Regions from separate parts of the Homo sapiens genome. Here all the other regions are linked to region 3. Evidence: fine-mapped expression QTL. A gene starts in region 3. Each other region holds a variant in brackets. All regions are shown on one strand. Distances are between the middles of the regions.

The links.
Region 1: its variant is fine-mapped to the expression of RMI2 in blood mononuclear cells (TOPMed, PIP above 0.99). The same link has a PIP of 0.9 or more in sun-exposed skin.
Region 2: its variant is fine-mapped to the expression of RMI2 in substantia nigra (GTEx, PIP above 0.99).
Region 4: its variant is fine-mapped to the expression of RMI2 in iPS cells (HipSci, PIP 0.91).

Annotation. Positions count from the first base shown.
Region 1 is chr16:11,320,999-11,329,102 of GRCh38, reverse strand. The region is part of intron 1 of LOC105371082 (a long non-coding RNA gene); the gene reads right to left. Among named protein-coding and RNA genes, the nearest start is that of MIR548H2, 19 kb to the right of the region's middle. RefSeq lists enhancers at 1-419, 478-527, 1,418-1,477, 1,538-1,607, 1,698-1,757 and 2 more. The variant G/A (reference allele first, on the strand shown) is at 3,942.
Region 2 is chr16:10,829,438-10,837,541 of GRCh38, reverse strand. No RefSeq gene overlaps it. Among named protein-coding and RNA genes, the nearest start is that of TVP23A, 15 kb to the right of the region's middle. RefSeq lists an enhancer at 3,212-3,341. The variant G/A (reference allele first, on the strand shown) is at 3,427.
Region 3 is chr16:11,340,855-11,348,955 of GRCh38, reverse strand. It overlaps RMI2 (RecQ mediated genome instability 2), which reads right to left and starts at 3,497. Exons shown (of 2, transcript NM_152308.3): 1 at 3,190-3,497. The coding sequence starts at 3,484. The region is part of intron 1 of LOC105371082 (a long non-coding RNA gene); the gene reads right to left. LOC105371083 (a long non-coding RNA gene) reads left to right here and starts at 3,744. Exons shown (of 2, transcript NR_135174.1): 1 at 3,744-3,843; 2 at 6,533-7,147. RefSeq lists silencers at 3,169-3,248, 3,269-3,428.
Region 4 is chr16:11,286,533-11,294,636 of GRCh38, reverse strand. The region is part of intron 1 of LOC105371082 (a long non-coding RNA gene); the gene reads right to left. LOC124903805 (small nucleolar RNA U13) reads right to left here and starts at 1,427; the gene lies at 1,324-1,427. RefSeq lists enhancers at 7,832-7,981, 7,529-8,029, 8,030-8,104. The variant A/G (reference allele first, on the strand shown) is at 4,975.

The DNA of each region.
Region 1 (8,104 bases), 20 kb after region 3:
CAGTGCGCTGAATCCAAACGCCTGATTTCACAGGGAAGGAAGGAAAAGCGGGGTACATGAGACGTTGAAATGCACCCCCCAGGGCAGTAGGGGCATTTTTTTGAGTGAGTTTGGGATGGGGTTAGGTGGGAGGCAGGGGGATGGACAAAATGAACACCTGCCAAAGCCCCAAAGCAGTTTCTCCAACCCAGAATGCCCTGACCACCAGTGAGGGGTAGTTTCCCAACTGTCCTGGTATGAGGTTTTCTGGGGGGCCTGACCTTCATTCGAAGTTCAATGAAGCACACAGCGCCCCTGCATCAGAGATTGCTTCTGAGGGACTCAAACCTCAGCCTTGCAAAACAGCGACACTTGAGTGAACCCAGCTGGAGACAAAGGAAGTGTGAGTCAGCCCAAGAATTTCTTTTAAAAGGCCGAGTGAAGGAGGCCACAGCTGCTGAACTGGAAGACAGAATTTGCATGAGCCTGGGGCTAGGCTCTGGGCACCAACCTCCGGATGTCCTCAGGGATCTGTGAGCAGAGAGGCCTGGCTGCAAAGGGTCTGGAGGACGGCCCTTCTGCTAAGGTGTCCGCTCCCAAGGCAGAGGGCTTGGGGGAGCTGGAGGAGGCTGGGTTCCAGGAGGGGTGGCCAGGTAAGTCCTTGGGCCAGTAGGGAAGAAGTCCAACTGTGTACAAACGTTACCTCTGAGCCACACCACTACCCTGCCAGGAGGTTTGATGTGGTCCCATTTTACAGAGGGGAAGACTGAGTCTGATTTCTTCACTCAACAAGTGCTCACTGAATGCCTGGGATGCAGCGGTGAACAAAACCAACAAAAGACCCTGCTTTTATGGAGTTTATAATCTGGTGAAGGATGGGGAGAGAGCAAGAGACAATTTCGGGTGCTAAGCACATGCAGATGAAGAAAATAAACCAGGAGGGGTGGGGAGAGGGGCTTATCTGCACAGGCTCCCTCAGCTGAGACCTGAATGACAGAAGGGGCTGGTGGGCTGGGGAAGGGCCACTCCCACCAGAGGGAATGGCGAATGCTAAGGCCCTGCAGCGGGAGCGACCCTGTGTGTATGAGGAACAGAAAGGCCAGTATGGGTGCGCAGTGATGGGGGAGCAGTCAGTGATGCAGTCAAGAGGTCGGTGAGGCAAGATCAGGTAGAGACTCACAGGCCACTTAAAGGAATTTGGATTTTGCTTTAAATGTACCAGGAATGCGCATTTTTGAGGGGAGGGGTGGGGAGAGACAGAGAGAGGAGGCTGGGCACAGTGGCTCACATCTGTAATCTCAGCACTTTAGGATGCCAAAGTGGGAGGATCACTTGAGGTCAGGAAACCAGCCTGGCCAACATGTCAAAACCCCGTCTCTACCAAAAATACAAAAATTAGCCGGGCGTGGTAGTGGGTGGCCTATAAACCCATCTACTTGAGAGGCTGGGGCAGGAGAATCACTTGAGCCCGGGAGGTGGTTGCACTCCAGCCTGCGCAACAGAGGGAGATTCCATCTCAAAAAAAAAAAAAGAGAGAGAGAAAGAGAAAGAGAGAGACATGACCTGATTTTCGTTTTCAGTAGACGCCCCTGGCCGCCGCGTGGAGACTGGGCTGTGGGGGCAGAGGAGTGGAGAGACTAGCCAGGAGGCTGCAGCTGCGGTTTCACTCTACTCCCCACGGCCCGATGAGGGGAGACAAAGACAGAACTCAAGGATGGACTTGGTTTGGGACTTGAGCGACTGGGTCCATGCAGGTGTCCTTGCCTGAGGCAAGGATGGTTTGAGCCAGGGCACCCAGCCGGAGCTGGCTAGACTCCCTTTCTCCCGTGCCGCCCACCCCACAGAAGGCCCGGAGCGTTCATGCTGGCATTCAGGGACCTCCACACCCCTCCCTCCTCTTGCCTCTCCATTTTGACCTCACGCTGCTCCCCATGGCCACAGAGCTCTTGTCTCTCTCTCCTGACATGCCATGCTCAGTCCCAGCTCCAGACCTTTGCTCACGCTGCTCCTGCCTGAGGGCCCTTCCTCCTCCCTTGGCCTGAGTGGAGGCCTGAGAAGGGCTTTATAGAGCAGTGGCTCTCAAGCTAGCACCTGCCTGGATTTGAATTCCAGCACGACCACCTCCTAGCATGTGATCCTAAGCACGTTCCTTAACAGGACTCAATTTCTTCATCTGCCAAGTAAGAGTGAAAATATAAGTGCTGACCATGTGGGGTAGTTGCAGGATTAAAGAAGAAGCACTCATTCGTTTCACTCTGGGAACAAGAGAAATGTCAACCTGGTTAGCCAGTGTTACTTCCTAGTGGCACAGAAATGGCATGAGGGACTGGGCACGGGGGCCCACGCCTGTAATCCCAGCACTTTGGGAGGCTGAGGTGGGAGGATTACTTGAGCTCAGGAATTCGAGACCAGCCTGGGCAACACAGGGAAACCCTGTTTCTAGAAAAAATTAAAAAATTAGCCAGGTGTGGTGGTGCACACCTGTGGTCCCAGCTACTCTGGAGGCTGAGGTGGGAGGATCACTTGAGCCTGAGAGGTTGAAGCTGCAGTAAGTGGTGATTGCACCACTGCACTCCACCTGGGCAACACAGCAAGACCCTGTCTCAAAAAATAAAATATAAAATAAAAAATTTTTTAAAGCCTGGAGAAGCAACCGCTCTTTACTATCGCATATGGCTATATGGAAAGGGAAAAGGCTCTGGCCCACCGGGAGGGCTGTCTCCTTCATGGCCAAGTCTCCAGAGCCTCCCAGTGTCTACCCACTGGACAGAGGAACGGCCACAAGCACGCAATCATCCCTGCCCCCTGCAAGGACTTCCTACTCAGCTTTTACAGGAAGGGACTCGAAGCCAAGAGTGACACAGTGGATACACCATGGGTGGTTCCTTCCCAAGTCTTTCTGGCCAGCAGGGCCCTGGTGACATCTGAGATACTGGGTAGAGACTCATGTTTCGCTTGAAATGCAACAGGGACTCTTTGGAGGGTTTTCAGAGAGACAGAGGAGAGGCGTGATCTGATTTTCACCTTCAGTAGAATGAAAGTGAACCCACATTTCCCAGGGCAGCTCTACCCTGGCCAGTCCCAGTAATGTGACTTCCCTCAGACTCCCATGGGTGGCTTCATGCCGCAGATGCCAGGGATGGTGGGGCCTGCGGCCAGCTGGGGGCCGGGTGTCCTGCCTTCACCTACATCCCCTCTACACCCTGCAACCAGAGGCTTGAAAAGGGGAAGCCATAAGTCAGATCAAGCCTAGGCTGTGGTGCCCACTGCCACTGCTGTGGGATGTCTGCTGGAAGATGAGACCATGAGGTTTACAGGAATTGGAGCCTCTGACTAGCACTGAATGTGAAAGCAAAACTCACACGCATGCACACTCAGGCTATTGCAGACACAAGCAGACACATGGCGGCACATTCACTCCCATACACATAAGCATATATACACGCACATACACACACATGCATGTGTGTGCATGACTGCATACACAGGTGTGCATACACTCATCCACTCATGCATACACTCTGAGGCGCAGGCACACATACGCATGCACACAGACACAAAGGCTCCCAGACCCCTCTCACGTAGTCTGCCCACTTGCAACCGTAGGCTTGCTCTCCCTGGACCTCAGACCCACTCACATTCCCAGCTCCTGCCAAGAGATACACCCATTTTCCACCAGTGGAAACACACACACTCACACACACCCAAGAGCCCAGGACCATGGCCTCCAAGCAGCCCTGCACACACAAGAGAGCTGCTTGTACATGGGCACTGTCCCACAAGCCTGCCAGACCGCATGGTTGTGCACACATGCACACAAGCGCACACCAATATCCCTTCTCTCTCTTTCTCTCTCTGAGTTCACAGAGGTCAGCCTCAGAAACACAGAGAACACCTTGCTCAGGCCACTTTGACTGCAGCCAGTGGCACTTTCCGGGCCCCTTGCTGCCCCAGCCTTACCC[G/A]GCATCAAAGTCTACACTCCTGGATTTCACTGGAGTGTGCCCTCGGCCTGGAACACCCTTCTGCCTGCTCTTCCCCCTGTCCCAACATGCCAAATCGCCAGCTCTCCCCTGCCCATCCAACCAGGAAGCTCCCAGCAGTTACAGGGCACTAAAGTGTGGAGGTCCTGGGCCAGCTTGTGCTCCTCCATAAAAGTCTTAACCTCTCTGGACCTCAGAATCCTCATTACTAAAATGAAGTTCATTATTAGCATCAGACAAACCTTATTTCCTTGAGAAGGGTTTCATGTCCAGCCAAGCACATAGTAGGGGCTCAGGAAAAAAGCTCATTAAAAGAATAACAATGGGCCTGGCATGGTGGCTCACACGTGTAATCCCAGCATTTTGGAAGACCAAGGAGGGAGGACTGCTTGAGCCCGGGAGTTCAAGATCAGCCTGGGCAACATAGTGAGACTCTGTCTCTGTAAATAAAATAAAGTAAAATAAAATAGGCCGGGCACAGTGGCTCACACCTGTAATCCCAGCCCTTTGGGAGGCCAAGGCGGGTGGATCCCTTGAGGTCATGAGTCTGAGACCAGGCTGGCCAACATGGTAAAACTCTATCTCTACCAAAAACACAAAAAATAGCTGGGCATGGTGGTGGGTGCTACTTGGGAGGCTGAGGCGCGAAAATTGCTCAAACCCACAACAGGGGGGTTGCAGTGAGCCGAGATCATGCCATTGCACTCCAGCGTGGGTGACAGAGCGAGACTCTGGCTCAAAAAATAATAATAAAATAAAATAATTTGAAATTTTAAATGCTCAACATACCATGTTTGTAATCCCAGCACTCTGGGAGGCCGAAGTGGGGGTACTGCTTGAGCCCAGGAGTTGAGACCAGCTTTAACAACATAGCAAGACCTCATCTATACAAATAATAATAACAAACTTAGTTGGGTGTGGTGGCATGAGCCTGTGGTTCCAGCTACTTGGGAGGCTGGGTGGGAGAATTGCTTGAGCCTGGGCAGTCAAGGCTGCAGTGAACCATGATTGCGTCACTGCATTCCAGCCTGGGCAACACAGCAAGACCCCATCTCCATAGATTAGATAGATAGATAGATAGATAGATAGATAGATAGATTAGATAGATAGACAGACAGACAGACAGGTAATAAACCAATGACAATGACGTCCACAACAGACTGAGACCCTGCCATGTTTAAAGAACCCTGTGAACCCTCCCAGCAAACCTAGCAGGTGACAGGGCTCCCATCTCCCAGAAGAAACAGGCCCAGAGGGCAACGTCTTCTCCAAGGTCAGTGGGGTCTGCAGCAGAGCTCATGCCTCTTGATCCCAGCCCAGTGCATCAGGCGAGGGAGGCCGCTCCAGGCATAAACCTGGCGGGGCCTGCCCAATGCAGTTCTGGAAGGCCGCCGGCCCACCGCACTCCCCACAGGTACTGAGGGGTCCCTGGCCAGCTGGTGTCAGGGACCAGTGAGCAGGGGACCCAGGAGCTGCATGGTGGGCACAGAAGTGAAGAGACACAGGCCTAGAGAGGGGAGGAGTTTTACCCAGGATGTCAGTTTCCCGAGGCCACAAGCAACAAGTCATGAACTCAGTGGCTTAAAACAATAGAACTTGATTCTCTTACAGTTCTGGAGGCCAGAAGTCTGAAGTCAAGGTTTCAGCAGGGCCCTGCTTCCTCCAGAAGATGGAAGGGAGGCCCCTTCCTTGCTTCTTCCAGCTTCTGGTGGCTCCAGGCATTCCTTGGCTTGGAACTGTGTGATTCCAGCCTCCACCTCCATCTGCACAGGGCCTCCTCGCCTCCGTGTCTGTGTCCAAAATCTCTCTCTGCCTCTCTCTTCCAGGGACACCTCACATGGGATTTGGGGTCCACCCATGTTCTCGTTTCCAGATCCTCAGATCCTAAATTTAATGACATCTGCAAAGACCCATCTTCTAAATAAGGTCACTGTCACAGGTTCTGGGGGGGTTAGAACGTGGATTTATCTCTTTGGGGACACTTTTAACCCACTACACCTGGAAAGCAAGCAGCAGTGCCAGGCACAGCTCTCCCCTCGTCCCAGCCTTGATCTGGGATCTCATTAAGAAGACCAGGGCTGGGCCAACAGAGAGCCGGGAGCCTCCTGGCCTGGCCTGGAATCCTGGCCTTGCCTGTTACTTGCTGTGGGACCTCAGGCAAATAACTCAGCCTCTCTGTGCCTGTCTCTTCACCTGTAAAATGGGGATGACAGTTCTTACCTCATGAGGGAAATTAAATGAGTTGATGTAAAGCATCAGAACAGTGGCTGCCTGGAACCTAGAAAGCTCTCAACAAAAATTTGATAGATCAATACAGAAAATGGTGTCGGGGCTGGGCGTGGTGGCTCACGCCTGTAATCCTAGCATTTAGGGAGGCCAAGGCAAGTGGATCATCTGAGGTCAGGAGTTCAAGACCAGCCTGGCCAACATGGTGAAACCCCATCTCTACTAAAAATACAAAAAATTATCCGGGCATGGTGGCGGGCACCTGGAATCCCAGCTACTCCAGAGGCTGAGGCAGGAGAATTGCTTGAACCTGGGAGGCGGAGGCTGCAGCCAGCCAAGTCACACCATTTACTCCATCCTAGGCAACAAGAATGAAACTCCATCTCAAAAAAAAAAAAAAAAAAAAAACCAAAAAAAAACAAAGGGAAAATCATGTCTGGACACCCCGGACCCTCAGTAAGTGCTAACACTGCCTGAGGGAACTGGCCATCTTCCGGAAAATTCCTCACCAAGCATCTCTCTGGATTCCCCTCCTCACATTTTTGGCCTCCTGGAGGGAGACAGTGGAGGTCACCATCTTGTCAGATGAGAACACAGCCCTGGAAGTGGGGGAGCCCCAGACCTGGTGTCCTAGCCCCAATCGAAGGTCTCATGTGATGGGTCCCAGAATGGGTTTGCTCCCTGACATCTTCAAAGGAAAAAGAGAAACCAGAACAAGTGAATAGGTTTTTCATAAAGCAGAAGCCCATCTGGGGCATAGGAGAGCAGAGAGTGGTGGAATGCATGTACGTGTGCATGTAGGTGTGTATGCATGTGCGTATGTATGTGTATACGTGTACGCGTATAAGCATGTGTGTATGTATGCATATGTACATGTGCATATGCATGTGCATGTGTATGTATGTGTATGCATGTATGTGTATGCATGTAAACGTGTATGCATGTATGTGTATACAACTATGTGTGCATGCATTTGTGTATGCATGTATGTGTGCATGCATGTGCGTATACATGTATGAGTTTATACATGTGTATGTTTATGCATGTATATGCATATGCATGTGTATGTGTAGCATGTATGTGTATATGCATGTGTGTATGCATGTCTGTGTATGCATGCATGTGTATATGCATGCATGTGTGCGTGCATGTGTATATGCAGGCGTGTATGCATGTAAGTGTATGTACGTGTATGTATGTGTATGTATGCATGTATATATGCATGTATGTGTATGTGCATTAGGTGTGTGTGTTTGCACATGTGTATGCACATATGTATGTTTGCATGTGTGTATTTTTTTCTTTTAGAGATGAGGGCTCGCTGTGTTGTCCAGGATGGTCTTGAACTCCTAGCCTCAAGAGATCCTCCAGCCTCGGCCTCCCAAGGTGCTGGGATTACAAGCAGATCCACCCTGCTCAGCCCCCATGAGGAGCAGTTCTTGAAGGGTGGCCTGGGGCCAGCAGCACTGGCACCACCTGGGGACAGGTGAGGAATGACCATTCTCAGGCCCACCCCGGCTACTGGAGCTCCAGGTGGGTGCTGCAGGTGGCACTGGTGCCTACTGATGTTTGAGGACCACTGGCCTTAGGGATGCAAAGTACAGATGGGGGAGCCGGCCCCTGAGGACTTGAATCCCAGATCTGCCACCTCACAGTTGCATGGCTACTTCCTGTCCCCGGGCATGCATCTCTCAATGAGTTCTTAAGCATCCAGAGCAGCACTTGGCATTTCAGGGACCAGCTTCCATCTGACGATAGGAGCTAACACACGTGCACCAGCTAATTATCTTTTCTTTTAGGAAGGGATGAAAACCATAGATAGTATTTGATTTCTTTGCAACTCCATGTTTGGCGAATTTTTTAAATTGGTAGTTAACTCTACCAATCCCTCCATACCGCAGTCCCCAACCTTTTTGGCA
Region 2 (8,104 bases), 510 kb after region 3:
GTACTACGCACTTTTAAACAAACAGATCTTGCAATAACTCACTCACTCACTATCAGAAGGACAGCACGCAGGGGATGCTGTTCATGAGCACCCATTCACGAGAAACTGCCCCCCTGATCCAATCACCTCCCACCAAGCCCCACCTCCAACATTGGGGATTACAGTTCAACATGAAATTTGGGTGGGACACAAATCCAAATCATATCACAGCTGGACTTAAGTCCTAGCTCTGCCACTTACCAGTGGGACCTTGGTCAAGTTGCTTAATCTCTCTGGGCCCTGGGAGAAGCAGCACAGTGCAAAGTAGCACTTGTGTTTTGGAGTGTCTGCCCATGTAGCTCTTACACTGGGGCACCTATGGAAACTGCCATTTTTTATGCTTAGTATCTTAATACTGAAGTCCCTTTGTCTTGGTCCATTTCATGTTGCTATAAAGGAATAACTGATGCTGGGTAATTTACAAAGAAAAGAGGTTTATTTGGCTCATGATTCTGCTGGCTGGAAGTTCAAGACTGGGCATCCAGTGAGGGCCTCAGACTGCTTCCACTTGTGGTGGGAGGTGAAGAGAAGTCCACGTGTGCAGAGATCACATGGACAGAGAAGAAGCAAGAGTAGGGGCAGGTGCCAGGCTCTTTTTAACAACCAGCTCTCTTGGAAACTAATAGAACAAGAACTCACCCCATGGGAGGGAGAGATCCATCCCCATGCCCCATGCCCTAAACACCTCCCATTTGGCCCCACCTCCAACATTGGGGATCAAATTTCAACATGAGGTTTGTAGGGAACAAATATCCAAGCCATAGCACCCTTTTCCCACTGGCAGTCCTGAGAGCCTCTCTTCATGCTTAGTTTCTACTCCTCTGTACCCTGGGTAAGTGCTTATCTCTTTAGGGGGCTTCCCCATGCATGAGTCATGGAGCCAGTGTCTTAAGCCAAAAGATCTCAAACACGACACCACAGTGGACAAATATCCATCTACCCATTTTTTGCATGATTCAAAATAAGGTAAGATATAGGTATGGCTGCTGTGACAAAGGCCAGGCAGAGACAAATGTATTTCTTTCTTGGGTAACAGTCCAAGTATCAACTATTCAGAACAGATAAGGGGGCTCTATAGGGCAGGGTCTCAGCTTCCCTCTCTTTCTTGGTTTCCCAATCTTTATTCATGGCTCCCACCTCATGATTCAACATGGCTGCTCCAGCTCCTACCATCACAACTGCATTCTATCAGAGGGAAAATATAATCCCAAAGTGGCACAACTTACTTTATTAGCTTTACTTTACATTACCATACTCCTTGCAGGGGAGGCCAAGAAGGGTGATCTTTAGCTGATAGGACCATGAGCCAGCCAAAAATCCTCATCTGATGTAAGAAGATATTAGGGTCAGCTGGTAGTTTTGCCCTACATAACAGAACAGATAAAAGTTTAATTTTATTCATGTGGTTGGATGAATACTCAGACCAAGGGGTGTGAGGAAAAGGCCCCCAAATCCCCAACAGAGTAATGGGCAAGAGGCTGGAGTGAGACAGAAGCCTGTTTGGAAAAGCTGTCAATGTTTTCTTTTGTTCAGTCAACAAACAGGCATTGAGCATCTCCACTGTGTCTGACACTATAGCAGACACTGGGTGTGTGCAGTGAGGAAAGTGGGTGAAAAAGCTAGGTCGTTCCCAGCTGACATGGTGATCAATTTCTTGCATGCCTTTAGTATCGTGCCTCTGTTTACTGAGCACCTAATATGTGCCAGGCCTGGGTAGGGGATAATGAAGCGGAAACAAATCCAGCCTGACCCCAAAAGACTCTCACAATGAATAGGCACTGCCCACAAGCCACATGGGAAAGCCCAGCTCCCTCTGTTAGAATCACACCTGCCTAGGTTGGGGTGGGGGTGAGGAAAGGAGGAAGGATGGCCTGATCTTCATCAGCATCAGTTGCCTGAGCCGTGGTTCCAATCTCACCCCATGCTGTCCGTCTGTGGCCCTTTCCCCTCCTCTGATGTTCAAGGTCTAGAGCAGGATTCATGGCCCTCTCCACAAGGCAGTGGGGATCTCAAGAGACTTGGACCTCTAGAAGTGGCCAGGGCAGCGGTGTGGCTGGCTGGTCTGTTATCCAGGTGGCATGGGGAACACGTAGAGTGACCCACTCATCCTGGTTTGCTTGGACTATCTCAGTTTTAGCACTGCAGAGCCTGCCTCCTGAGAATCCCCTTGGTCTGGGGAAACTAGGAGAGTTGGCCACCCTAGAACCTTGGATTCTGTCTGGGTCCTCCCCTACTCCCCAAATTCTAAACCAGTGGTTCTCCACCCTGGCTGCACATTGGCACCTCCTGGGCAGTTTTTTAAGAACGCTGCTGCCTGGGTCCCCCTGCCAGACGAATTCATTCAGAGTTCAGGGTTGAGGCTGGGTGTAGATCTTATAAAAACAAAAACAAAAACAAAAAAATCTCCCAGGGACCAGGGTGTGAGCCCCTCCTTGGGGATGGGGCTGAGTCAGGAGATGGTTGAAGGTAGATTTTTGTTTTCTAGCTCCAGTGAGAGCTGAGGAAGAGGGGAGAAGGAGCACTGGATTGGGGTTCATTGACTTATTCCATCACCCACTCATTCATTCATTCATTCATTCATTCATTCATCAATTATGTACAGGGGACCTGCTATCAGTCAGGAGCTGTCCTGGGGCTGGGGACATGGACTGGGGGAAGAGGGTGATCATGAACCTGTTTTCAAGAAGCTTACATTCGAGTTGGGGAAACACATAGTCAACAAGCAAGTCACCTGGATACTTCCAGATGAAGATGGGAAGGAACTTGATGGAGTGATGTGTTGGATGATTGGGGGTACATCAGCTCCTGAAAGTCAATGGTTGGGTGCAGCATCTGGGGGCTTCACCACTCCAGACCTTTGGCCTTGACTGTTGGGTCTTGAGGCTTCTAGAAGACAGAGACAGCCCCCAGGCAGAGTCCCAGGTGTTTGCCAGAGAGTGAGTGTCATAAGGTCCTAGTGTGGCACCAACCGTGGCTCCTCCAGAAAGTGACCTCTGAGCTGCCACCTGAAGGACATGGAAGAGCTGGCCGTGTGATGAGCATGCCAGGGCATGTGGAGGGCATGCCAGGCAAGGGTGATGGCGAGGGCATAGTCCCCAAAGCGTGTGGAGAGTGTTCCAGGTAAGGGAGATGGCAAGGGCATAGTCACCAAGGCGTGTGGAGGGTGTGCCAGGCAAGGGAGACGGCGAGGGCATAGTCCCCAAGTCAACTTTGGTGCATTCCAAGAGCAGCTACCAAGGACGGTGGGTGGTGTGGCCCGGGCTGGAGAGGAAGATAGAGTGGCAGGGGCTGAGAGTGGGGGAGAAGTCGCCAGGGCCAGGCCACGTGGCACTGAGATTCAACTGTGTAGGCAGGGAAGCCTCAAGAAAGTTTTGAGCAGGCGTCTAC[G/A]GGATCCAGTTACTGCTGGGCAACAAGCTCACTTTGCATGTGGTCTGGAGGTGGGATTGTAGGGAAGGGCACAAGATGAAAGAGGAGAGATGGTCTCACCCCCCTGGGTGGCCTTGGCCAGTCCCTTTTCTTCTCTGAGATTCAGCCACTTATCTGGAAAATGAGGCCAAGAAGTCCCACCCCATATGCTTCAGAGGGGCATTTCAGCTGTGCACAGTGGCTCATGCCTATAGTCTCAGCATTTTGGGAGGCCAAGGTGGGAGGATCACTTGAGTCCAGGAGTTTGAGACCAGCCTGGGCAGCATAGCAAGACCCTGTTTCTAAAAAAAAAAAACAAAAAAAAAACTTTTTAATTAGCTGGGCTTGGTGGCATGCACCTGTGTTGTCCCAGCCACTCGGGAGGCTAAGGCAGGAGGATGGCATGAGCCCAGGAGGTCGAGGCTGCAGTGAGCTGTGATTGTGCCACTGCACTCCAGCCTGGATAACAGAGTGAGGCTCTGTCTCTAAAAAAATAAAAAATAAAAGAAGGGTGTTTGGTGACTCCCATGAGCGGAAGTCCCCTGGCTACAGTTGGATGAAAGTCTCCTGGCTGTGGCAGAACACAGGGAGGGGCCTTGACACCACCCTTTGGGTAGAAGTGGCCATGCCTGGACCCACCAAATGCAGACTGGGGCCTTTCTCAAGTTCTCTGCTTTGTGGTTGGGTTTTTCCAAGTGAACTGAGCTAAAATTATGAATGGTGAATGCAGCGTCTCGGAGGTATAAAGGCCAAGTGAGGCTGAGAAATGAAAATCCAGTCCTCGAGGTACCTTGGCCAAGAATCCAGGTGCCGCATTTCAAGACCTGTGTTTGAATATCCTGAGCTCACTCATGGGGAGGGCTATCTGATTTGGGGGTCCTGTTTCTCCCAGGGGCTCCTCAGTCCCTCTGTAAGTGAGTTGATGCTGATAGGTATGAGGGCTCTACCACCTCCACCTGCTGACACTCCCCAAGCGCCAGCTGGGTTGGGGTGCACATGGATGGGGGTGAGTGGGCATCATCCATTCTTTTTCCTAGCAGCTCTGGTCCCAGCTGGTGTGGACTGTATGTGGAGAAAGTAAGGCAGAGAGGCCAGTGACTCATTTAGGGCCACCCTACTGGTCAATTCCCACCAAGGTAGTGGATGACAGAGGTGGAGTAAAGACTCTTTCCTCTGTGTCACCATGATGGTGGTTGGCAGGAGCCCACAGTCCCTCGGATCCTGTCACCATCTTCATTCCCACCAGGTCCTGGTGAGCTTTCACTTCCAACAGCAGCCCCTGCACCTCTTAGCTAGAGACACTCCTCATGATGTTGGAACCTGCTTTGCCTGTGTGTTTTCCTAGAGCCAATGGGGCAAGGGCAAGATGGACAGGAGAGTATAAATACCCCAGCTCCCCCCTCCCACTGGAGACTCTGAGAACCCCCTGTGGGGTGAGCCACAGTTACCTTCTGTTAAGGGTTGACTATGTCCTTCATCTCAAAATTCCTATATTGAAGTCCTAACTTCCTGTACCTTAACATGTGACCCTACTTGGGGATAGAGTCATTGCAGACATCATTAGAAAGATGAGGTCACACTGGAGTAGGGTGGATCCCTAATCCAATATGACCGGTGTCCTTATAAAAAGGGGAAATTTGGACACAGACACGCATACAGAGAGAACATCATGTGAAGATTGGATTACGCAGCCACAGCCTAGAAAATACCAGAAACTAGGAGAGATGCTGGGGACAGATCCTTCCCTAGCGCCTGCAGAGGGAGCAGGGCTCTGTAGACACATTAATCTCAGACTTCCAGGCTCCAGAACTGGGAGACAATGAATTTCTGATTTTTAAGCCACTCAGTTTTTGGTACTTTTTGATACACCTTTGAGGGCCTTTGTCTGCTGTCACACCCCTGTGTGGCCTCCCTGCCTCTCAGCCCATCTCTCCGACCCTCCCCAGAGCCCTGCCTAATCCCTAAGGTGCTCATGCACCCTCATGCAGGGTATGGTCTGCTTCTGGGGAATCCCACCTGACAGCGGGTTTTTTTTTTTTGTCGTTGTTGTTTGTTTTTGAAACAGAGTCTCGCTTTGTCGCCCAAGCTGGAGGGCAATGGCACAATCTCAGCTCACTGCAACCTCTGCCTCCCAAGTTCAAGTGATTCTGCTGCCTCAGCCTCCTCAGTAGCTGGGATTACAGGCATGTGCCACCACAACCAGCTAATTTTTATATTTTTAGTAGAGACAGGGTTTTACCATGTTGGCCAGGCTGGTCTCAAACTCCTGACCTCAGATAATCTGTGTGTCTTGGCCTCCCAAAGTGCTGGGATTACAGGCATGAGCCACCATGCCCAGGTTACAACAGTAGGTTTTCAGGAGCAATGGCAAACTCGCCAGTGGCAGAGAATGAAGTGAGCACACTGGTGTCTGGGGGTGGTGAGCTCGACTCTGCAACCCCATCTAAGGGGGGATAGCACCGCTCAGCTCCCACCACAGGGAATTCAGGCTCCATGTCACCTGAGCTTCCTTAAGAAAAAACAGAAGTACAGACTTCAAAAAAAAAGTGACATCTGATTTTTCTTTTCTTTTCTTTCCTTTCTTTTTAAGAGACAGGGTCTCACTCTATCACCCAGGCTGGAGAGCAGTGATGTGATCACAGCTCACTGCAGGCTTGAACTCCAGGGCTCAAGCGATCCCACCACAGCCTCCCAAGTAGCAGGGACTGCAGGCACAGGCCACCATGCCCCGCCTGGTTAGTATTTTTATTTTTTATAAATAGATATGAGGTCTCGCTTTGTTGCCCAGGCTGGTCTTGAACTGGCTTCAAGAGATCCTCCTGCCTTGGCCTCCCAAAGTGCTGGAATTACTGGCGTGAGCTACTACACTTGGCCCCAATTTTCCAATACTGGCCATTAACTCCATGAACGCTGCCTATTTTTTTTTTTAACTATGCAGGTCCAACCCAAACATGTCTGGAGCCCAGAGTTGACCCTTGGGCAGGCACTTTGCAACCTTGGGTTAAAGGTTTGGCAGGGACTGTGCACCCCAGTTTTGTGTGATGGGAAAAGCTATGAGCAGGGAGCAGGTGGAGACCTGATATCTACTCATGGGTCTACCACTGGTTTGCTGTATGCACCTGCTTCAAAACCTCTCTGAGCCTCAATCACCTGATCTGTAAAATGGGTATCATGCCATGCACTTTACCTCCTGGAGTGAAAATAAAGGTGGCTTGACATAATTTATTTAGCAAACACTTACTATGTGCATGCAATGTGCTGAGTATGTGATAAAACATTAACTCCTAGCCAGACCCAGGGGCTCATGCCTGTACTCCTAGCACTTTGGGAGGCTGAGGCAGGAGGATCACTTGAGTCTATTCCAGACCACCCTGGGCTGCATAGCAAGACCTTGTCTCTATGAGAAATAAAAAATTAGCTGGGTGTGGGGTGTGCACCTGTAGTCCCAGCTACTAGGGAGGCTAAGGCAGGAGGATTGCCTGAGCCCAGGAATTGGAGGCTGTAGAGACCTATGATTGCAGCACTGCACTCCAGCCTGGGTGACAGTGAGACCCCCATCTAAAAGAAAAAAGAAAAAAAACAAATTAGCTCCTGCATTCTATCCAACAGCCCTGTAGGGAAAAGAAAGAGAGATCAGACTGTTACTGTGTCTATGTAGAAAGGAAAGACATAAGAGACTCCATTTTGAAAAAGACCTGTACTTTAAACAATTGCTTTGCTGAGATGTTGTTAATTTGTAGCTTTGCCCCAGCCACTTTGCCCCAGCCACTTTGACCCAACCTGGAGCTCACAAAAACATGTGTTGTATGAAATCAAGGTTTAAGGGATCTAGGGCTGTGCAGGACCTGCCTTGTTAACAAAACGTTTACAAGCAGTATACTTGGTAAAAGTTGTTGCCATTCTCTAGTCTCAATAAACCAGGGGCACAATGCACTATGGAAAGCCACAGGGACCTCTGCCCTTGAAAGCTGGGTATTGTCCAAGGTTTCTCCCCATGTGATAGTCTGAAATACGGTCTCGTGGGATGAGAAAGACCTGACTGTCCCCCAGCCCGACACCCGTAAAGGGTCTGTGCTGAGGTGGACTAGTAAGAGAGGAAAGCCTCTAGCAGCTGAGATAGAGGAAGGCCACTGTCTCCTGCCTGCCCCTGGGAACCGAATGTCTCGGTATAAAACCTGATTGTACATTTGTTCATTTCTGAGATGAGAGAAATACCGCCCTATGGTGGGAGGCGAGACATGTTTGCAGCAATGCTGCCTTGTTATTCTTTACTCCACTGAGATGTTTGGGTGGAGAGAAACATAAATCTGGCTTACGTGCACGTCCAGTCATAGTACCTTCCCTTGAACTTCATTATGACATAGATTCTATTGCTCACATGTTTATTGCTGATCTTCTCCTTATTATCACCCTGCCCTCCTACTGCATTCCTTTTTGCTGAAATAATGAAGATAATAATCGATAAAAACTGAGGGAACTCAGAGACCGGTGCCGGTGCCCGGTGCAGGTCCTTGGTATGCTGAGCGCGGGTCCCCTGGGCCCACTGTTATTTCTCTATACTTTGTCTCTGTGTCTTATTTCTTTTCTCAGTCTCTTGTCCCATCCGACTAGAAATACCCACAGGTGTGGAGGGGCAGGCCACCCCTTCACGGCCCTTAAA
Region 3 (8,101 bases):
GCCAATGAGGCTCATCAGGATAGAGCCCTCCTACCTTCCACCACTGCCCCAGGCTCCCCAAAGGCACGCGGCTCTATCCCCTTCAAGCCTTTGCACAGGCTGCTCCATGGAGCTGCACAATCTCCTGCCACTGCACACAGACAGAGGGTGCCCAAGTGTCCCAGTTTTAACACTGAAAGTCCCACGTCCCAGGACCCTCTCAGTCCCAGGCAACCCAGGAGGGTTGGTCCTTACAGATAACTCCAATGCATCCTTCAGGGCTGCCTCTTCCAGGAAGCCTTCCCTGAGCCCTCAAACCTAGATCAGCTGTCCCTCCTCTGCGCCACCTCACTCTTGCCTGCAATGTTACTTTGTGTTTTAGTGGCCCGCTTACCTCCCTGCCTCCCTGATGGCAGTGACTCAATTTTGTCAAGCTGGACTCAGTATTAATTAACAAGAAGAAATGACATGGCCCCTGCCAGCTGGCATTCAGGCCAGTGGGTATGTCAGACAGGTTCACCAATGCCCATGGGTTCAAACACTTATTTACTAGATGCCAGGCTTATGCCAGGGCTGAGACCAGATAGGAGACTGCCCCAGCCTGCCTGCAAGGTGCTTTGCCTGCAAACCAACACACCAAGCAGCATGGGTTACTTGCTGGGCCAAGGCTAAGGCCAAGGGTTGGCAAACTTTTTCTGTAAAGGGCGAGACAAATATTTTGGGCTTTTCCCGCCATAGGGTCTCTGTCCCAGATAAAATTCTAGCTGGGGTGGGACAGCGGCCCGAGACATTCTGTAAATTACCAATGTATTCCAATAAAACTTAACTTATGAACACTGATGCTTGAATTTCATATACTTTTCACATATCACGATTTTCTTTTCAACCATTTAAAAATGTGAAATCCTGCCAGGTGCAATGACTCACACCTGCAGTCCCAGCACTTTGGGAGGCCAAGGTGGCCAGGAGCTCCAGACCAACCAGTCTAGCCAACATGTTGAAACCCCATCTCTACTAGAACTACAAAAATTAGCCGGGTGTGGTGGTGCACACCTGTAATCCCAGCTACTCGGGAGGCTGAGGCATGAGAATCGCTTGAACCCAGGAGGTGGAGGTTGCAGCAAGCCATGACTGCGTCACTGTACTCCAGCCTGAGAGACAGAGCGAGATTCTGTCTCAAAAATAATAATAGTAATACATAAAAATTTTAAAAGCATTTTTAGTTCGCAGGACACATGAAAAGAGGAGGCCTGTAGTTTGCTGACCCTGTCCTAGACCAACGCTGCGGCTGAGGGCAGGCAGACAGAGGGAAGGCTGATGGGTAAGGCAGTGGGAAGACGGAACAGGAGCATGTGGCAGTAAACGAGTCCTGATATTTTGCATCCTCACTGTGAGCCAGGTGCAGTACTAAGGCAGTTGTTTACTTATTGAATCCACACAACACGCAGGAATGATTAGCTCCTTTTTACAAAATAGTACAAGTCCAGAAAAGTTAACAAGAGTGCTCCAGGCAGCTCAGTTGGGAAGGGGTGGAACCAGAAATTCGACCTAAGCCTTTCCGAGTCCACAGCAGCTCAGGCCAGACCACAGCCCTATCTGCCTCTAGTTAGACTCCAAGACTGAGCAGGAAGGGCCCTTAGGAATGAAGTGATCTTGGCCTGATTTCCCAGGAGAGGGAGCTGAGGTGAGGGAAGGCCCATGGAGCCTCAGAGCTCCTCAGCTTAGACCTCACATCCTCTAGAAGCCTCCCCGGGCCACTCAGCACCTTGCACATCCTCATGGCTCCCCAAAGATCAGCGATCCTCTGCGACACTTGCTCACTGCCTGTCTCCCAGCAGACTCTATCTAGGTCTCGGCTGCAGCCCAACACTGCACATGAGGGGCTGATGTACAACACGTGCTCAACTGACATCCCAGGGAACAAGTGAGATGGATGCCCATTGCCTATCACTCAAGACTATTGGTTCTTGGAGCACTTATGTGTCAGGAACTGGGCCAGATGCTGAGGATACAGTTGTCAGGACCACACAGCTCTGGCCCTCCAGTAGCTTGGGCTGGCCCAGTGGTTCTCAAAGTATGGCCCCCAAACCAGGCGTGGTGGTACAGGCCTGTAGTCCCAGCTACCCAAGGAGGCTGACGCAGGAGGATTGCTTGAGCTCAGGGCCAGCCTGGGCAACACGGTGAGTCCCCTATCTCAAATAAATAAAACATTTAAAAAGTCGAAAGTATGGTCCCCAGACCAGCAGCATCAGCATCACCTGGGAGCTGGTTAGAAATGCAAATTTCCAGCCCCACCTGGACCTCCTGACTCACAAACCCTGAGGGTGGAGCCCCAGCCATCCCAGCTTTACCAAGCCCTCCAGGAGAGACTGATGCTGGCTCAAGTTTGAGCATCAGTGGTTTAAGAGAGGAAGCAGGCAGGGCGCAGCGGCTCATGTCTGTAATCCCAGCACTTTGGGAGGCCGAGATGAGCAGATCACTTGAGGCCAGGAGTTCGAGACCAGCCTGGCCAACATGGCAAAACCCAGTCTCTGCTAAAAAATACAAAAATTAGCCGGGTGTGGTGGCACATGCCTGTAATCCCAGCTACTCGGGAGGCTGAAGCATGAGAATCGCTTGAATTCGGGAGGTGGAGGCTGCAGTAAGCTGAGGTCGCGCCACTGCACCCCATCCTGGGCGACAGAGTGAGACTCCGTCTCAAAAAAAAAAAAAAAAAAAAAAGAGAGGAGGCAAACATGAGTGAGCTACAGCCCAAGACAGTTCAATTAAGGAGAAGTACAGGAGGGTCTCCCGTTCCTAGGGGCTAGGGAGGACTTCCCTGAGAAAGGCACATTTGAGCTGAGACGTTAAGGATGAGCAGAAGTTTCCCAGGACAGTATTTCCCAAAACAAGGATATCAACTGGGAGAGGGGGCTTGTGACAAACGAAGGTGCCGGAGTCCCTCCCCAGAAGATTCCCACTAGGGGTGGGAGAGTCCCAGGAATCTGTATTTGTAAAAGGGACGGCAGGTGATGCTTATCATCAGATCAACTTCACCAAGGAGGGACCGGAGCAAGGGTACCCAAGCGGGGACCCGCAGGGGCAGAGGCCCGGAGGAGGGCCAGACCCGCCCCGCCCCCGTTCGAGTGTCAACAACAAGATCGAATCTGGCCTCGGCAACTTCTCGGCGGGCAGCAGGGAAGAGGGCGCCCGGTAAGGCCCGGGCATTACCTGGGACTAGACAGGGCCGCCCGCGCGGCACCCGCTCCAGGCCGCGGACCGAGAAGTCCCCGCTCGGGTCCCTCAGCCGAGCCTCGCCGCGGTCCGCCATCACTACCCTGCCCTGCATCCACACGGCCGCCAGGTCCAGCGGCCCGCGGCCCGCCGCCGCCCGTGACAGCCGCCACGCGCCCGGGCCGCCCTCCGCGTCGCGCCGCAGCTGCTCCGCCAGCACCTTGAGTGGCGGCGACCTCGGAAGCCGCACCCCCGCGGGGCCGCCTGAGAACGAGTCCGCAGCCGCCGCCATTCCGCCTCGCCGCACCCTTCCGCCCCGCCTCCGCTTTCCCGCCAACTTTGAGAAGCAGCGGGGCCCGGCCCTCAGCCACCAATCAGGAGCGCGCTGGCAGAGCCGGCCAATGGTCGACGTCAGAAGGCGGGACCGCCGGGCGAAGAGGCCCTCTCTAGCAGCCAGGAGTGCGCATGCGTAGATAAAAGTAAATAAACGCCCTCAAGTTAGGAATGAACGGAGGAAATGGGTTAAACGAGAATAAATAATTGAAGGCAGAGAGGTAAAGAACTTCCTCTTTCAACGCATCTCAAAATTTGGCGTGGATGCAGATCACCTACAGAGTATGATTATTCATCTTTACATTGCCTTGTTTTGAGGTTAGTAAATACTGAAACGAATTAAGAGTCCGTGTTTATTGGGAGTGAGCAAGAATCCAGTCAGGAGATAAGGCTGGGGAGGGAGACGGGGAGAGCTGGCAAACTTGCCTTTTCTTTTATTATTATTTTCAGTTATATTTTAATAGCATCAAATAATTTTAAGGTTAATAAAATATATTGCTATTTTTCAGACAAGAAATGCACATTTATTGTAAAAAAAATAGGGGAAAAATGTAGAACAAGAAAATAATTGTAAAAGCCGCTTATAGATACCCACTGTTAATTTTGGGGTATATTAGCCTTTAGGCTTTAAAATATGTGTGTGTATTTTTTTTGAGACAGGGTCTCACTCTGTTGCCCAGGATGGAGTGCAGTGGCACAGTGACGGCTCACTACAACGTTCACCTCCCGGGCATAGGTGATTCTCCTACCTCAGCCTCCCAAGTATCTCGGACTACAGGCGTGCACCACCACGTCCAGCTAATTTTTGTATTTTTTGTAGAGACAGGGTCTTACCATGTTGCCCAAGGTGGTCTGGAACTCCTGGGATCACGCAATCCTGCCTCCTTGGCCTCCCAAAGTGCTGGGATTACAGGCGTGAGCCACCATGCCTGGCCTATTACTGATATACAAATAGTGTTTTGTATATTGTTTTCACTTAATAATGAACATCTTTCTGTATCAGCAAATATCCATCTGCTTCCTCTTGAATGACTGCATAATACTCGATTTGTCTTATCACATATTAAACCAATATCCTACAGTTGGACATTAAGGCTATTTCCAATTTTTCACTTTATAAATATATCCACTGTGGACCTACTTAAAAGATAAATCTTTTTTATTTATTTATTTATTTATTTTTTTGAGACGGAGTCTCACTCTGTCACCCAGGCTGGAGTGCAGTGGCGCCATCTGGGCTCACTACAAGCTCCGCCTCCCAGGTTCCCGCCATTCTCCTGCCTCAGCCTCCCGAGTAGCTGAGACTACAGGTGCCTGCCACCACGCCCAGCTAATTTTTTGTACTTTGTTTTAGTAGAGACGAGGTTTCACCGTGTTAGCCAGGATGGTCTCGATCTCCTGACCTCGTGATCCACCCGTAAAAGCTAAATCTTTTTGTGCATCCTTCAAATAAAATTCCCAGGAATCTCTCCCTAAAAATTGGATGTCCCCAGTCAGCAAAGTCCACAGATCCTAAATCAGGCAATCCTTAAAGTCAAGGTCAGTTCTTAAGAGAAACTTTGAGTTCCCAGGGCCTCCTGCAGTACCAGGCATTCAGAGAGTATTCAGCAAGAGCTTGATTTTTTTTTTTTTTTTTTTTTGAGACGGAGTCTCGCTGTGTCACCCAGGCAGGAGTGCAGTTGTGCCATCTCAGCTCACTGCAACCTCCGCCTCCCAGGTTCAAGTGATTCTCCTGCCTCAGCCTCCTGAGTAGCTGGGACTACAGGTACACGCCACCCGCCTGGCTAATTTTTGTATTTTTTAGTAGAGACGGGGTTTCGTCATACTGGCCAGGCTAGTCTCAAACTCCTGACCTCGTGATCTGCCCGCTCAGCCTCCCAAAGTGCTGGGATTACAGGCGTCAGCCACCGCACCCGGCCAAGAGCTTCATTTTTATAAAATTGAGCCAGGTCCTATTGTAAGAACTTTGTAGGAAGTATCCCATGTACCCCCACAGACCCTGAAAAGACTGTTCCACACAGGTGAGGAAACTGAGGCTTAAGGAAGCTAGAGGGCTGGCCCATAGACTCTCAGTAGCCTCTATGAGGTTTTGGCCTCTACACCTAATATGGTTTGGCTGTGTCCCCACCCAAATCTCATGTTGAATTGTACTTCCCATAATCCCCACATATCGTGGGAAGGACCCCGTGGTAGGTAATTGAATCATGGGGGCGGATACTCCCATGCTGTTCTCGTGATAGTGAGTGAGTTCTCACAAGATCTGATGGTTTTATAAGGTGCTTTTCCCCCTTTGCTCGGCACTACTTCTTCCTGCTGCCACATAAAGAAGGACGTTTGCTTCCCTTTCTGCCATGATTGTAAGTTTCCTGAGGCCTCCCAGCCCTGCGGAACTGGAGTTAATTAAACCTCTTTCCTTTATAAATTACCCAGTCTTGGACAGTTCTTTATAGCAGTGTGAGAACAGACTAATACAACACCTCAACCCTGACCTATGAAGTAACCAGGCTCCTAGGCTGAGAAAGGAGCAGGAACATTAACCAAGAGAGAATCCAACCCGTTCATGCCTGGTGGGTCCTCACTGACCTTCCCCCGAGGTACCTTAAGGACAGAGAAGTGACGGAGAAGGGAGTTAGCGTGAAGGGAGAAGCCCCCAGGCTTCTTGTATGAGCCTGGGAATCCCCCATCATTCCCTTGGCCTCCAGATTCCCTGCACCTGCTCCCACAAGCCCAACACCATGTTGCTGGCAGAGTGATCTTTTCAAAACACAAGTCTTAGCATGTCAGCACCGGGTTTATAACACCTTGATGGTGTAATCCACACATCTGGCATGTGAGCATTCCAGGCAGAGGGAACTGCACATGGAGGGGCCAGACAGGGGAGACAAAGCAAGAAGCATGTAGCAAACTGCCAGTAGTTAAGGATGGCTGGGACACAGAGTAGAAATGGAGGACTGGGGATAGATGAGTCTGGCTCTACATAACCTCATGTCTTATCCCCATTTTACAGATGATGAAACTGAGGTTCAAGCCAATGACAAGCCTGAAGCCACATGGCTAGTGAGTGGCAGAGTCAGAACTCAAACCCAAATCCACCTGACCCCAAACTTCATGTATCTTGAACTACAGGCTCCATCTCACTGTTCACACTCTCACCCACCTCCACCCATCAAAGGTGCCTCTAGACCTTTGCTTGTGTTGTTTGTTCTCTGCCTGACATGCCTCCCCCTCAGTCGCTCTCAGTTGAAACCTGGCTTAGTCATCAAGTGCCTGCTCAGCAGCAAGACCTCTTCTCTTCACAGAGCCTTTGTTGAGCCCCACCACTGGAATTAACCTCTTCCTTCCAGACCAGTTTGGTGGTGCCCCTAATCCACAGTTTCCCAACCTCAGCCCTACTGACACTGGGGCTGGATAATCTTTGTCGTGGGGGCTGTCGTGTGCACTGCAGGATATGGAGCAGTACCCCTGCTTTCCACCCACGAGATGCCATGGCACCCTCCTCAAGTTGCAACAACCAAAATATGTCTTCAGACATTGCCACTGTCCCCTAGGGTACTAAATCACCTCTATGGAGAACCACTGTCCTAAGCTACAATACTCACTGCCCTCTGTTTTGAGCCATAAATAGTTGTGTCTGTGTCTATCTTACCAGTAAAGCCTGGGTTCTCAAACTAAGTTGTCAGCAGCAGACAGACAGGTAACCCTGGTGTAGCAGGGGCAAACTGGCCTTCTGATGTCCCGGCAACAGGGGTCCATCACACTCAGCCGGTGGTTGTCGTGCAGGACTGTGGGCCCATTGTTGCTAGATCTGATTTTTCAAGACATTTTCTTTTTTTCGTTTGTTTTTGTTTTGTTTTAGATGGAGTCTAACTCTGTTGCCCAGGCTGTAGTGCAATGGCACGATCTCAACTCACCACAACTTCCACCTCCCAGGTTTAAGTGATTCTCCTGCCTCAGCCTTACAAGTAGCTGGGATTACAGGTGCCCGCCACCACGCCCGGCCAATTTTGTGTATTTTTAGTAGAGATGGGGTTTCACCATGTTGGCCAGGCTAGTCTCGAACTCCCTACCTCAGATGATCCACCTGCCTTGGCCTCCCAAAGTGCTGGGATTACGGGCGTGAGCCACCGCGCCCAGCTCAAGACATTTTCATGTATAATTTCCATGTTTAAAAAAAAAATGCTGGCAAACAATTCAATTCTGAAACAAAGGAACAAAAACAAACCATGTGCCCCAGAAAGTCATCCATGGACTGACTCTGGCCCGTGGGCTTCCAATCTGCAAACTCTCTCTAGAACGTGACCTCTGCTTCAGGCACCAAGGCAGCCTGCATGTTCACTAACGTGCAGGTCCTTAAATCTCCTGCAAAATAGCCAAGGGGCTGTAGTGTTCCACCAGCTCCAAGAGTTGCAAAATCAGCATTTTAAATTACAGTCATGAGCAGACAAGTGGGGTCTGTTGACACATGTTGGGTAAGCCTCCCCTCTAGGGAGGATTATCCCCCCTCCCCCACACCACAATCCATCACCCTCACACTCAGGCCTGAAGCAACCCCCTGTGCCAGCCTCCCCGAGCTCCA
Region 4 (8,104 bases), 54 kb after region 3:
CTGCACTCCAGCCTGGGCAGCAGAGCGAGACCCTGTCTCAAAAAAAAAAAAAAAAAAAATTTAAATAAACGAATTAAACCCAAATGAATGTTTCCTTTTAATGCTTTTAAAAGCAAAAAGCCACAATATATACATTGTCAGCCCCATGCCAGGGTACAGTGAGGCTGGCTCTAGCTTTGTGGTTATACCAGCAGCACTGCGATCATCTGTTTCGTATGTAGCCTCTGCTCATCTATGTGAGATCCTTTTCTTTTTCTTTTCTTTTTTTTTTTGAGACAGAGTCTTGCTCTATCACCCAGGCTGGAGTGCAGTGGCACAATTTCAGCTCACTGCAACCTCCACCTCCTGGGTTCAAGTGATTCTCCCGCCTCAGCCTCCTGAGTTGCTGGAACTGCAGGCGCCCACCACCACGCCCAGCTCATTTTTGTATTTTTAGTAGAGACAGGGTTTCACCATATTGGCCAGGTTGGTCTTGAACGCCTGACCTTGTGATCCACCTGCCTCGGCCTCCCAAAGCTATGTGAGTTTTTTTTGGGCTGTGCTGACCACAATAGAGCCTCGAGTCACATGTGGCCACTGACTTAAAACGTGGCTTGTTTGAACTGAGGTGCACTGTAAGGATGAAATGCACCCTGGATTTCGAAGACTAGGTATGAAGAGAAGTATGTAAAGTAGCCCAACCATTCTATATTGACCACTTGAAGTGATGATATTTTGGATATACTGAGTTAAATAAAACATTAAAACACCATTTAAATGACATAGAGCTCACATTTGTTTCTTGCATTATATTTCTTTCTTTCTCTACTCTTTCTCTTTCTTTCTTGAGATATAGTCTCACTCTGTTGCCCAGGCTGGAGTGCAGTGGTGCAATTATAACTCATTGCATCCTTGAACTCCTGGGCTGAAGTGATCCTCTCACCTCAGCCTCCCAAGTAGCTGGGACTGCAGGAGCATCACACCACACCTGGCTTTTTTTGGTCGGGGGAGGAGGGTAGAGACGGGATCTCACTATTTTGCCCAGGCTGGTCTCAAATTCCTAGCCTCAAGCAATCCTCCTGCCCTGGCCTTTCACAGCACTGGGATTACAGGCATGAGCCACCTTACCTGCCTGGCTTGCATTATCTTTCTATTTACTGACCCTGATCAACAGGATAGATTTATGCAAGCAGAATCAAGCAGAACTGCTCGGAGCAATACTACCCATGGAGATGTTGCTGAGATATGTGGTTAAGTGAACAAAAGTTGCAGAAGTGTGGTGTGATCCATTTATTCATCAAACAACTCCCTCCTCAGTCTCGTCTATTTTTCTTTTTTTTTTCACATCAGACGGGTAACATGCCAACCTTGTAACAAGGTTTGAGGGAGGTGCATCTTACACACCCTCGTGAACACCAGACCATCGTGCTTGGGAGCCACAAAACCACCTCATCTGTCATTCTCTGTTGTTGCACATTCCCACCAGCAAACAATCCTGCTCTGCTGTCCCGCTGGAAACCAAACCCCAACTAAACCAAATATTCTCCCGGCCCAGTTACGCTGCCAGCCACATTCCCGTTTTTCTGTTCTCTTTGGCAGTGAAAGTCCTTGAAAGAGTGGCCAGTGTTCCTTCTAAACCCCACCCCCAGGCTTGGCACGGTGGCTCACGCCTGTAATCCCAGCACTTTGGGAGGCCAAAGAAGGTGGATCACTGAGGTCAGGAGTTGGAGACCAGCCTGGCCAACATGGTGAAACCCTGTCTCTACTAAAAATATAAAAATTAGCCAGGCGTGGTGGCAGGCACCTGTAGTTGCAGCTACTCTGGAGGCTGAGGCAGGTGAATCACTTGAACCCGGGAGGCGGAGGTTGCAGTCAGCCAAGATTGCACCACTGCACTCCAGCCTGGGCGAAGAGCGAGACTCCATCTCAAAAAAAAAAAAAATAATAATAATAATTAAAATCAAATAAATAAATCCCACTCCCACCAGGTTTGCCTGGCCCCCACTGCTACACACAAACTGTTCTTCTGAAGGTCGCCAGTAACTGCCACATTGCCATGTCCATGGGTGACCTCTGAGTCGACCTCTGATGTGATTGACACAGCTGCTGCTTACCCCCTCCCCAGTGCCCTTTGTCCACCGGGCTTCCTGGACCCAGGTCTCTTGGTTCCTCCTACCTTCCTAGCTGCTCCTCCTCAGCTCCTGATTTTTTTTTTTTTTTTTTTTGGATACAGGGTCTTGCTCTGTCACCCAGGATGGAGTGCAGTGGCACGACCTCAGCTCACTGCAGCCTCAATCTCCTGGGCTCAAGTGATTCCCTGACTCAGCCTCCTGAGTAGCTGGGACTACAGTGTGCACCACCACACCTGGCTAATTTCTGTATTTTCTGTAGAGATGGGGTCTTGCCATGTTGGCCAGGCTGGTCTCAAACTCTTGAGTTCTTGAATTTTTTTTTTTCTTTTTTTGAGATGGAGTTTCACTCTGTCATCCAGGCTGGAGTTCTGTGCGTGATTTCAGCTCACTGCAACTTCTGCCTCCTGGGTTCAAGCGAGTCTCATGCCTCAGCCTCCTGAGTAGCTGGGACTACAGGTATGCACCACCATGCCTGGCTAATTTCTGTATTTTTAATAGAGACGCGGTTTCACCATGTTGGCCAGGCTGGTCTTGAACTCCTGACCTCAAGTGATCCGCCCAAATGAGCTTCCCAAAGTGCTGGGATTACAGGCATGAGCCACTGCACCCAGCCAGCTCCTGACTTCTTAATGCTTGGTCCTGGGCACTCTCTTCCTCTCCATCATCCCCTTCGTGCTTGAGGTAGGCAAAATAATGGCCCCAAAGATGCTCATGTGTGAATCCCTGGAACCTGTCAATAAGCTGCCTTATGTAGCAAAAGGGACTATCCAGATATGATTAAATGAAGGACCTTGAGATGGGGAGATTGTCCTGAATTACCCGGGTAGGTCCAGTGTAATCACAAGAAACCTCATAAGGGAAAGACAGAGGCAGGAGAGCCAGAGTCAGAGAGAGATTCGAAGAGGCTATACTGCTGGCTTTGAAGACAAGGGAAGGGGCCATGAGCCAAGGAGGAGGCCTCTAGAAACATGAGGAAAAACAAAAGGCGGAGAACAGATTCTCCCCCAGAGGCTCTGGAAAGGAATGTCATCCTGCTGGTACTTTGATTTTAGCGCCTTAAGACCATTTTGAAATTCTGACATGCAGAACTGTGAGATAATAGGACAGGCATAGCAGCTCATACCAGTAATCCTAGCACTTGGAGAGGCCGAGGCGGGAGGATCGCTTGAGGCTAGGAATTTGAGACCAGCCTAGGCAACACAGGGAGACCTCTCTCTACAAAAAGTAAGAAAAAAAGTAGCTGGACACGGAGCCAGGCTTCCATTCCAGCTACTCAAGCAGGCTGAGGTAGGATCACTTGAGCCTAGGAAGTAAAGGGTGCAATGAGCCGTGATCATGCCACTGCATTCCAGCCTGGGTGACAGAGTTGGGGGCGAAAAACCATAATGAACTCGTGCTGTTTTAAGTTACAAAGTTTATGGTACTTTGTTACAGCAGCAGCAAAAACTAAATCAGTGATCCTGGCCAGTCTCCTGATTGTAAACACTGACAATGCCCAAATATATCACTTCCAGGCTAAATGTCACACTCAGATACTCAGCTGCCTACTTACTGGACACCTCTACTGAGATGTCTGAATTCTGGACCCTCCTCCCAAGCCTTCTCCATACATTAGAGTTGGTGGCAATGCTATCCTTTGAGATGCTTGAGCCCAAAGTCTCGAAACCAGCCTTAACTCTTCTGTCCCTATCGCTCCCCTCATCCAGGCTGCTGGTGAGTCCTGCTGGCCCCATCTTTAACACACAACCAGATTCCGACCACTCCTCACCATCCTCCTCTACCACCCTGGTGTGAGCCTCCACAGCCTTGGGCCTGTGTGACAGCAACAGCCTCCCTGCCTCCACATCTGCCCCTACATTCTTCTCAGCACAGGAGCACAGGGGTCCTTAAGACAAAGAGTGTCACTCTTACGATCCCCATTTCATTTGGTGTAAAAGTCGAATCCTCAGGGAGGCTGACAAGGCCACCTATAATGTGGTGCCCCCCTCCCACCTCTGTGACTTCATCTCCTACCAACCCCCACCTCTCTCTGCTCCAGCCATGCTGGCCTTGCTGTTCCCTGGGCACAGCAGAAGGGCTGTGCATCCCCACCCCAGGGTTCCCCTTGTTCCCCCCTTGTCCCCACCCCATCATGTTCCCCTTGCCTGGAGCACTCTTCCCTGATGTCCTCATGACTAACTCCCTCACTGCCTTCAAAATCTGCTTAAATGTCACCTTCTCAACAAGGCCTGCCCTGAGCACCCTGAATTGCCACTTGTCCCAGTTACCTCCATCAGGCCCAAGGGTTCTCACTGTGCCCTACTTTTTCTGTGTTCCTTTCAATATAAAGTATCGTTTATCCATCTATCATTCTTATTGTTTTGCTCATCTCCTGCACTAGAACATAACTCCACGAGGGCGGGGATCTTTGTTTTGTTCATGGTGTTGAAAACAGTGCCCAGCATAGAGGGCATTCAATAAATAAATGAATGACTGGAAAGGTATCAGGGGTGAGGTGGGGTTTTTTGTTGTTGTTTTTTGTTTTGGTTGGGGGGACAGGGTCTAGCTCTGTCACCCAGGCTGGAGTGCAGTGGCATGATCATGGCTCACTGCAGCCTCAACTTCTCATATTAAGCAATCCTCTTGCCTCAGTCCCGAGTAGCTGGGACTACAAGCCTGCGCCACCACGCCCACCTAATTTTTGTATTTTTTGTAGAGATAGGGTTTCACCATGTTGCCCAGGCTGGTCTCGAACTCCTGGGCTCAAGTGATCCTCCTGCTTGAGCCTCTCAAAGTGCTGGGACTACAGGTGTGAGGCACCATACCCAGCCTTTAGAAAGGTTAACAATTCTAAAGCCACCATACGTGCAGAGTGAAAGGGAAC[A/G]ACTAAGTAAATGGATGGAGGATGGTAGGAGCCAGGCTTCCCACTGTTACAGATGAGCAAGGAGAGGTATTTAGAATGATCCATGTGATGACCATGGATTAGAGTTGGAGATGTTAGCATGAACAGGTTTAGCTAAAACAGTACCATAGATGGTTACCTATAGAAATATAGATTTGTGTACATACAGGTTAGTACACACACAGATTTCCTTGCTCTGTCCGCTAAGACGGCCAAGAAGCAACAGCACCCTACAGCCCTGAGCACATCTTGCACCCTGATCTTGGTTTCTAATACCATTCACCAATGAAAGGAACCAGGGCTCCTTGCAGAAACAGCTGATTCTAGGTCTAAGACAGGAAACAGACAAGATGAGCCTGGAGCATCTTGTGGTGCCAGAAAGTTAAGGAAGTGCTCAAAATCTCACAATGATGGAGTGTGTCACAGGGACATGGGAGATAACTGAAAGGCATCCAGTAGCCAATGCTGGAACAATTTGAGCAACAAAATACAGTAGAATTGGATTACACCCAAAGTATACAGGATCCATGGATCCATACTGATATAAATGAATGAATAAATAAATGGAGAAGAGACAAATCTCCAGGGTAGAAAATTCCAATAAGTGATGAAGATGCCCTGCCCTGAAGGAGGTGGAGCTTAACTCCCCATTCCTTAGGCATGGGCTGCACAGAGTGACCTCCTTCCAAAGAGCACAGTATCAAATGCAGGGGAAAACAGTAGCTCTGCTATAAAGAAACCTGACAGGCACTGCCTCAGCCAGGCATCAAGTTAGTCCTCCTGAGAGCACGTCCCCTTTGTAGGACGTGAGGAAAAGGGCACTCACCTCCTGGCTCTTCCTCCCAGAACACATAACCCCAGTCTAATCATGAGAAAAGTATCAGTCAAATCCCAATGGAAGCCAAGGACAGCGGCTCATGCCTATAATCCCAACACTTTGGAGGCCGAGGTAGGCAGATCACAAAGTCAGGAGTTTAAGACCAGCCTGGCCAACATGGTAAAACCCCATCTCTACTAAAAATACAAAAATTAGCCAGGCATGGTGGTGCTTGCCTGTAATCTAAGCTACTCAGGAGGCTGAGGCAGGAGAATCACCTGAACCTGGGAGGGGGAGGTTGCAGTGAGCTGAGATCATGCCATTGCATTCTAGCCTAGGCGACAAAGCGGGACTCCATTTCAAAAAAAAGAAAACAACTCAATTGAGTGACACTCTACAAAATACCTGACCAAATCAACAACCTAACAATGCATCCTAAAGAACTAGAAAAGGGCAATCCAAATCCAAAATTAGTAGAAAATAAGAAATAAAGATCAAAGCAGAAATTAATGAAATTGAAACAAAATAATACAAAAGATCAACGAAACAAAAAGTTGGTTTTTTGAAAAGATAAAATTGTCAAACCTTTAGCCAGACTAACTAAGAAAAAAAGAGAGAAGACCTAAAGATATAAAATCAGAGATGAAAAAGGCCAGGCGCGGTGGCTCACGCCTGTAATCCCAGCGCTTTGGGAGGCCGAGGTGGGCAGATCACGAGGTCAGGAGATCAAGATCGTCCTGGCTAACACAGTGAAACCCCATCTCTACTAAAAATACAAAAAATTAGCCGGGCGTGGTGGCGGGTGCCTGTAGTCCCAGCTACTCGGGAGGCTGAGGCAGGAGAATGGCATGAACCCGGGAGGTGGAGCTTGCAGTGAGCTGAGATCACGCCACTGCACTCCACCCTGGGCTACAAAGCGAGACTCCGTCTCAAAAAAAAAAAAAAAAAAGAAAAGAAAAGAAAAAGAAGGCATTACAACAGATACTGCAGAAATTCAAAGCACCATTAGTGTGGCTACTATGAGCAACTATATGCCAATAAACTGGAAAATCTGGAGAAATGGATCAATTCATGGACACAGACAACCTACTAAAATTGAATCATGAAGAAATCCAAAATGTGAACAGACCAATAACAAGTAATGAGATCGAAGCCTTAATAAAAAGTCTCCCAGGAAAGAAAAGCCCAGAACCTGGTGGCTTTACTGCTGAATTCTACCAAACATCTAAAAAAAAACTACCAATCCTACTCAATCAAACTATTCCAAAAATAGAGGAAGAGGGAATATTCACAAAATATCTGACAAGTACTCCTTAAAATTGTCAGTGTGACCGGCTGGGTGCAGTGGCTCATGCCTGTAATCCCAGAACTTTGGGAGGCCGAGGCGAGTGGATCACCTGAGGTCAGGAGTTCGAAACCAGCCTGGCCAACATGGAGAAACCCCAACTCTACTAAAAATACAAAATTAGCTGGGCGTGGTGGCGCATGCCTGTAATCCCAGCTACTGGGGAGGCTGACGTAGGAGAATCGCTTGAACCTGGGAGGCGGAGGTTGCAGTGAGCCAAGATTGTGCCACTGCACTCCAGCCTGGGCAACAAGAACAAAACTCCATCTCAAACAAAACAAAACAAAACAACTGTCAACATGATCAAAGACAGGAATGTCACAGCCCAGAGGAGCCTAAAGGGAGACGGGATCCTGGAACAGGAAAACATTGAGGAAAAACTAAAGCAATCTGAGGAAAGTATAGACTTTGGTTAATAATAATGCACCACTACTGGTTAAAGAATTGTGAAATGCACTATCCTCACATAAGATGTTAATAGTAGCAGAAAGTGGGTATGGCACCCTGAACTGGATCTTGGAACAGAAAATGAGCATTAGTAGAAAAGCTGGTGAAATTCAAATAAAATCTAGAGCTTGCTTGGTAAGTACTAATGTGCCAAAGTTGGTGTTTTAATTGTGACAAATGTGCCCCAGTGATGTAAAATGTTAACAATGGGGGAGACTGGGAGACTGGGTGAGAGGTATATGGAAATCCCCTTACTAACTCTGCAACTTTTTTTTTTTTCCCTTTTGAGACAGAGTCTCGCTCTGTCGCCCAGGCTGGAGTGCAGTGGTGCGATCTCGGCTCACTGCAAGCTCCGCCTCCCGGGTTCACGCCATTCTCCTGCCTCAGCCTCCCGAGTAGCTGGGACTACAGGCGCCCGCCACCGCACCTGGCTAATTTTTTGTATTTTTAGTAGAGACGGGGTTTAACCGTGGTCTCGATCTCCTGATCTCGTGATCTGCCTG